2 linked regions of the Homo sapiens genome follow. The protein of the gene in region 2 interacts with the protein of the main gene of each other region in a pairwise test. Each region holds a gene or a part of one and is shown on either strand. Other genes may lie near its edges.

Region 1 (3,500 bases), on a different chromosome or scaffold from region 2:
CAGGGGATTTGAATATTTAGGATATTTATCACCTCAAACATTTATCATTTCTATATGTAAGAACATTTCAAGTACTCTCTTCTAGCTATTTCAAAATACATAAGATATTGTTAACTATAGTCACCGTACTGTGCGACTGAACACTAGAACCTATTTCTTCTATCTAACTGTCTGTTTGTACCCATTAGCCAACCTCTCTTCATCGCCTTCCACCCTTCCCAACCTCTGGTAACTATCATTTTACTCTCTATCTCCATATGATTGAGGAATCCCACTACAGGGTATCTATCAAAAGGAAAGGAAATCAATATATCAAAGGGATACTTGCGCCCATACATTTATCACAGTACTATTTACAGTAGCCAAGATATAGAAGAGTCCAGCAACAGATGAATGGATAAAGAAAATGTGCTATGCATATACAATTGAATACTATCTGGCCATTAAAAAGAATGAAATCCTGTTATTTGCAGAAATGTAAATAGAACTGGAAGTCATTATGTGAAGTGAAATAAGCCAGGCACAGAAAGACAAATATCATGTGTTCTCACTGGCATGTGAGAGCTAAAACATTTGGTCCAATGAATTTTTTTTAACTTAATAAAATGATTCTAGATTTCATTTTGAAGAACCAACAGATAAGAATAGCAAATAATTTTTAAAATATATTAAAACATTATCATACTATAGTGCTATCAGTGCAAGAATAAATGGATCAATTGAGACAAATAGATAGTCCAGAAACAGTAACTGTTATATATAAGAATTTAATATATGGTAAAGTCGGCTAGCAAATCAATGAAGAATGGAAGTTGTATTTATAAATTATATTAGGACAATTGCTAGCTATCTGGAAACAAAATCAAATTAGATCTTTTATCCACATCAAAATACAACTCCAAATGGAATTAAAGAGGTAAATGTAAACTAACAAAACCGTAATTTAAAACAAAAACTGCAGTGAAGTTTTATGACATATCTCAAGGGGAAAGGACTTTCTAGCCAAGGAAGAAATCAAACACAAAGAAAACGAGTGACGTATTTGACTACTAAAAAGTTTGATTTTTGTATGTGTCAAAAAAAGTAAGGGCAAACACCAAACTTAGAAAACATACCTTGCAACAGATCAAGGATTAGTATATATATAAATTTACAATGTGTTAAAAAAGTTTGATTTTTGTATGTGTCAAAAAAGTAAGGGCAAACACCAAACTTCGAAAGGATACCTTGCAATAGATCAAGGATTAGTGCACATATATATATATACACATAGAGTGTGTTTAAAAAAAGTATGATTCAACTGGTTAAATGAGAAAAATACACAAAAAGCCAAATCATGGGAGGAAATACAACAGCTTAACAACCATATAAAATGACAGTCACTAACCAAAGGAATATAAAATGTGGAAAATAAAGAGATAGAGTGTAAATATAAAATAAAGAATAACAGGCCAAATGTCAAGGGAAAATTTTCTTAACTACAATACCCACTTCTAGTGAGGGTGTGGTGAAATGGACACTGATGCATTACAGGTGAGCATGTAAATTGGAATAACCATTTAGGGAAAATATCTCATGATCATGTATATATCAAGAATCCTAAGCTGTTTATGTTTTCTGACCTAGAAATTCCACACTGGAAATTCATTCTAAGGAAATAATCATAAATGCAAGGAAACTTTAATGTACTGAAATATACATCCTGATGGAATTTATAATAACAAAAATATGGAATGAGTCAAATGTCTAAAAGTAGGTGACTGGCTAAGCAAAATATGGTATACTTACTAGCTAGCTGGACTACCATGCAGCCATTAAAAATAACATCTTAAAGTTGTCTCTAAGAACATTACATATGAGTGTATTTTTTTCATATTAAGTGGGAAATGGGAAACGTATACAATTGTAAGAATACAAGAACACAATCATATTTTTAACACATGTAAATTTATATATAAATATATATAAATATATATTTATAATAATATATATAAAAATATATATTTATAATAATATATATAAAATATATATATTTATAATAATATATAAAAATATACATATTTATAATATATATATAATATATTATATCTTATATACAATATATAATATATTATATCTTATATACAATATATAATATATCTTATATACAATATATAATATATTATATCTTATATACAATATATAATATATTATATCTTATATACAATATATAATATATTATATCTTATATACAATATATAATATATTATATCTTATATACAATATATAATATATTATATCTTATATACAATATATAATATATTATATCTTATATACAATATATAATATATTATATCTTATATACAATATATAATATATTATCTTATATACAATATATAATATATTATATCTTATATACAATATATAATATATTATATCTTATATACAATATATAATATATTATCTTATATACAATATATAATATATTCTATATTATACTATATAATATAGTATATAATATACTATATATAATATAGTATATATTATATATTATATATAGTATATAATATATATTTATATATTATATATAGTATATAATATATATTTATATATTATATATAGTATATAATATATATTTATATATTATATATAGTATATAATATATATTTATATATTATATATAGTATATAATATATATTTATATATTATATATTATATAATATTATATATAATATATATTTATATATTATATATTATATAATATTATATATAATATATATTTATATATTATATATTATATAATATTATATATAATATATATTTATATATTATATATTATATAATATTATATAATATATATTTATATATTATATATTTTATATTATATATTTATATATTATATATATTAGATATTTATATATATATAAATATATAACATTTGGTGTTTGCCCTTACTTTTTTTGACGCATACAAAAATCAAACTTTTTAGTAGTCAAATACGTCACTCGTAAGAATACAATTGTAAGAGCACACGTGCTCAAAAAGCAATTCATCTTATTAAAATATAGAAGAAAATTCACCTAATTTTTAGCAATAGTCATCTTTAGGTTATAAAACTATAGATGATTTTTCTCTAATTTCTATTATCTATATGTTTCAAATTTTCTATAATGAATAGGTATAAGGAACTATTTTTAATAGACTTATACAAAAATCTATATTTATTTAGAGAAAGTAATTGAAAGAAATACTTATTACTTAAAATGAAGGTGAGCAATCCTATAAATGGAAAACTCCTTTAGTGCTTTATGAAGCAGTTCAATTTTCGATTTTCTAAATCAGAACAGAAGAAAAGGCCATATCTGAAAGCCATGATTAGGAGGTTCAGAACTGGGGAAAAGGGCAAGCATCGTTTGAAAGTACAGTTTAAAGTACAGTTTGAAGGCATATGAAATGTATTATCTCTACAATAAAAATATAAAAACTATAGCTCAATTAAATCTTCTTGGTTAATAGGAGTA
Region 2 (3,279 bases):
CAACGAAGTGGGGCCGTGGGCCTGGGAAGACTGTGTGGCTGGCTGAGGGTGGGCAGTAAGCTGGCCACCCCACCCCCGACATGGACATGGCTGTGCTATGGCGGAAGGGGTGGTGTGGGCATGGCCACAGCACTCGAGACAGCCCTCCGAGGAGGAGGGCGAGCCTGGCTGGACCCCCTGTCTGCGGTGCTGTGTCAGGGCAGGAGAGGACAGCCTCTTGCCCCCAGGAGTGTGCAGTGTGGGCAAGAGACAGAGTGATCATGTGTTTGGAACGCAGCTCCAGCCCAGCCAGGGGACCAGAAAAGCCCTCCCGCTTCCAGGGAGGATGTGCATGGCTCTGCCAATGCCTATCTCCCAGGGCCGCTGGCAGGTCCCAGGATGCGCAAGACTGGGCTGCCCAGGCAGGTCCCTGCAGACAGCAGGGCCTGGGCTAGAGGCCAAGGGCTGGGACTGGGAAGGGACGCGACGCCTGATAGCCAGTGAGGAGCCAGGCACACAACTTGGAAATAAACAAGCTTTATTTTCAGTTTCAACAGGTAAGGCGATACCTGCTTCATCGTGTGCTTTTATGTAAATGCCAAATAGCAAAATAACAGCTAGAAAATAAACAGTTTGTCAGTTTGGAGATCAAGTACTTTATCTATCTTGAGTGTTATCTGTCTTGGAATTTAGCCAGGCCTAAAAGTAGCGGAAGTATCAGGAAATGCTATAGAGAGCCAGTCTCCAGCTGCAGGTTGGTGGGCCTGGCACTGACCAGATTGGGGTGGCTCAAAGCACTGAGCGATGCAGGCGCCGTTTCTGCATTGCCTGCAGCCTCTTCTGCCTCTCGGCAAAGTTGTTCTTCGGGGTCTGCTTCAGTGCGGGCAGGATGGCACGCTCCGCCACAGGTGGGCTCAGGCTGGGGCGGGTAGAGGGACTGTCACCGTGAGCATCCCCGGGAGTGGAGTGTGTGGGGAGTGCGGCCTGCATGGCCCTCACGGGGGCACAGAGAGGCCTCAGCGAGCTCTGCTTCTGCGCTGCCACCCTCCCTTCCCCACTCCCTCCCTGGGGCCCAGGCTGCAGGGCTGCCCCACTGTCCCCATGCCTGTGGGACTTACCATTTCTTGGAGAGGCTCTTGGTGGAGACCTTGGGGAAATGCGTGGCTTCTTGGTCCCTGGGTGAAGGAAGAGTCAGCAGTGAGCTGTGGATAGGACCCCAGGGATGGGGCAGGGGTGCACCAGGCACTCACCTGGGAAAGCTAGCTTCCTCCGGGGCTGCCTGGGGCCTCTGGCTCCCTTCCAGGAGGGACTTGAGGTGCCGCAGCTGAAAGGCAGGGGCAGGGGCATGGTGGGGCCTGTGGCGGTGCCAGACTGCCCAGGGCCACCCCCACCACCCAGGGCCTCACCTCTTGGGTCTGCAGGAGGTTGGTATTCCACAGCTCGCGGATGAGCACTTCGCACTGCCTAAGTGTGGTGGGCTTTCGCAGGGGAAGGGGCAGGATCATTGGGGGGTGTGCCCCCGCCCCCATCTGCCTGCCCTGGTGCTGGCTGTTCCCCATACAGGCAGCTCCTGCATTAGAGGCCTCTGCTTTCTCCTTTCTGAAACAGTCATTGCAGCAGCCAGAGGTGACCTGCCCAGGTGCGTCTAACCACCCACCCAGCATACCTCCCCAGGCAGCGCCCAGGCCAATGTGGGGAAGAGGGCCTGGTTCCCCTCTCCCACTGAGCAGGGTGCTCTGGGCACCAGGTGGGGGTCTCTGGGACTGGGGCCTGTCCCTTTCTCCCCTCTGAAGGTGCCCTAAGGGTCAGATGGGCTTCAGTGGGTGACCAGCTAGCTGCCAGGCTGCTCTTGATCGTGACCCCACACCCAGTGGGGCATCTTGCTCCAGGCCTGGTCTTGGGATGTGCAGATGCAGGAGCCTGTCCTGCTGGTTGCGCTGCTGAAAGTGTGCACTCTGTAGCATCTCAGGGCAGTCCCGCAAACTCAGGGATCACCAGAACCTGTTCCTACTCTGACCTGCTGGCCTAGTGCCCTCCAAAGGCAGGCTGTGGCCAGGGGCAGCAAGCCTTCTCTTGGTAAGAATATTACTTTACTTTTCTCTGAGGAAGTGGTTTAGGGGCTGCTACTGGCCCCCCTCGTGGGCTCAGGTCAGCACAGGTACTCTGCAGGACCCCCAGGGGAAGGGAGGAAGACAGCGCCCACCGATGGGTAGAGCGTGGCCGTCATCTGCTATCATGAGCCCAGGAGACAGGCCCCTGGAGCTAGGGGCAGAGCAGTTGGCTGACTGCAGGGCGTGAGCCTAGTAAATGTAGTCATGGGGCCCTTAGGGTGCAGGCAAGACTTACCTGGCCTGCCCTTGCACCCCAGGAACACCCAAGCCTTACCTGGCCTGCCCTTGTACCCCAGGAACTTTGTCCAGCTTGCTGTTGTGAAGTAGGGGCTCCTCTTCCAGGTCCGCCTTCTGGGAGACGTCAGCTTTTGAATCTTGCTTGTTGAAGGAGCCGGGCTGGGGCCTGGCCTTGCCTTGAGAGTTGGCTGCAAGTCAGACCCTACAAGGCCGGTCACTGCAGGCACCAACAGTCACCGCCCAAGTTTTCCAGGAACAGCTGTGTGTACCCAAGAAGCCCCTGTCCCTGCCTCAGTTTCCTCCTCTGTAAAGGGAAGCCTGCCTTGGAGGGTTCTGGGGGGAATCAATGTGGTTCTGAGGGTGAAGCCCATGGGTGGTGCCTGTGAACACTCTAGAACAATCAACATAGTGGAAGCTGGCCCCATCTTGGGTAAAATGAAACTGCATGAGAGGCTTGGGACCCAGCCTGCATGGGTTTCCTCGGCAAGGACAAGGCCCGTCTAGCACCTGGGCCCATCACAGGAATGGTGGGGGTTAGGGCAGGGCTGAGGAAAATGCCCGGCCTCACAGAGTGGGGAAAAGAGGCTCTCTGCTCCCGGCTCACTCTGCAGAAGGTGCCATGAGCCCAGGGCTCCGTGGGCAGTGCCATCCCTCCTGTGTCCTGCCTGCTTGTGGCAGGGACACGGCCAAGCAGGGCTGCTGCTGGGCAGCCAGGGTACATCCTCCCTAGAAGGCCACCCGGGGAGGCCCCTCCTGCCTGCTTGCTGCCCCGCCCTGGGGTGCCTGCTGTGAGGCCTTACTGCCCTGTGACTGGTCCCTGGTCCTGCCCACCCCCCCTTAATCCCCTCCCGGTGGCTTCAGCTTGCAGGGCTCTTTTCAGCTGCACCTTCATCCCCAAATCCTGGAGCTTGGCCCAGCAGAGGGCGCCTGGTCAGCACCCCTAGAGGCCACC

Evidence for each region.
Region 1: the proteins of CCDC74A (region 2) and SH2D1A interact in a two-hybrid assay, tested with the Homo sapiens proteins (one large-scale study listed by BioGRID and IntAct).

Annotation. Positions count from the first base shown.
Region 1 is NC_000023.11:124,349,563-124,353,062, reverse strand, and holds part of SH2D1A (SH2 domain-containing protein 1A), read right to left. Parts: intron 1-3,500.
Region 2 is NC_000002.12:131,530,888-131,534,166, reverse strand, and holds the end of CCDC74A (coiled-coil domain-containing protein 74A), read right to left. Parts: intron 2,587-3,279; coding exon of another isoform or gene 2,561-2,586; exon of another isoform or gene 2,545-2,560; coding exon of another isoform or gene 2,504-2,544; coding exon 2,365-2,503; intron 1,579-2,364; coding exon 1,386-1,578; intron 1,304-1,385; coding exon 1,230-1,303; intron 1,155-1,229; coding exon 1,098-1,154; exon of another isoform or gene 1,093-1,097; intron 899-1,092; coding exon 769-898; 3' UTR 501-768; downstream 1-500.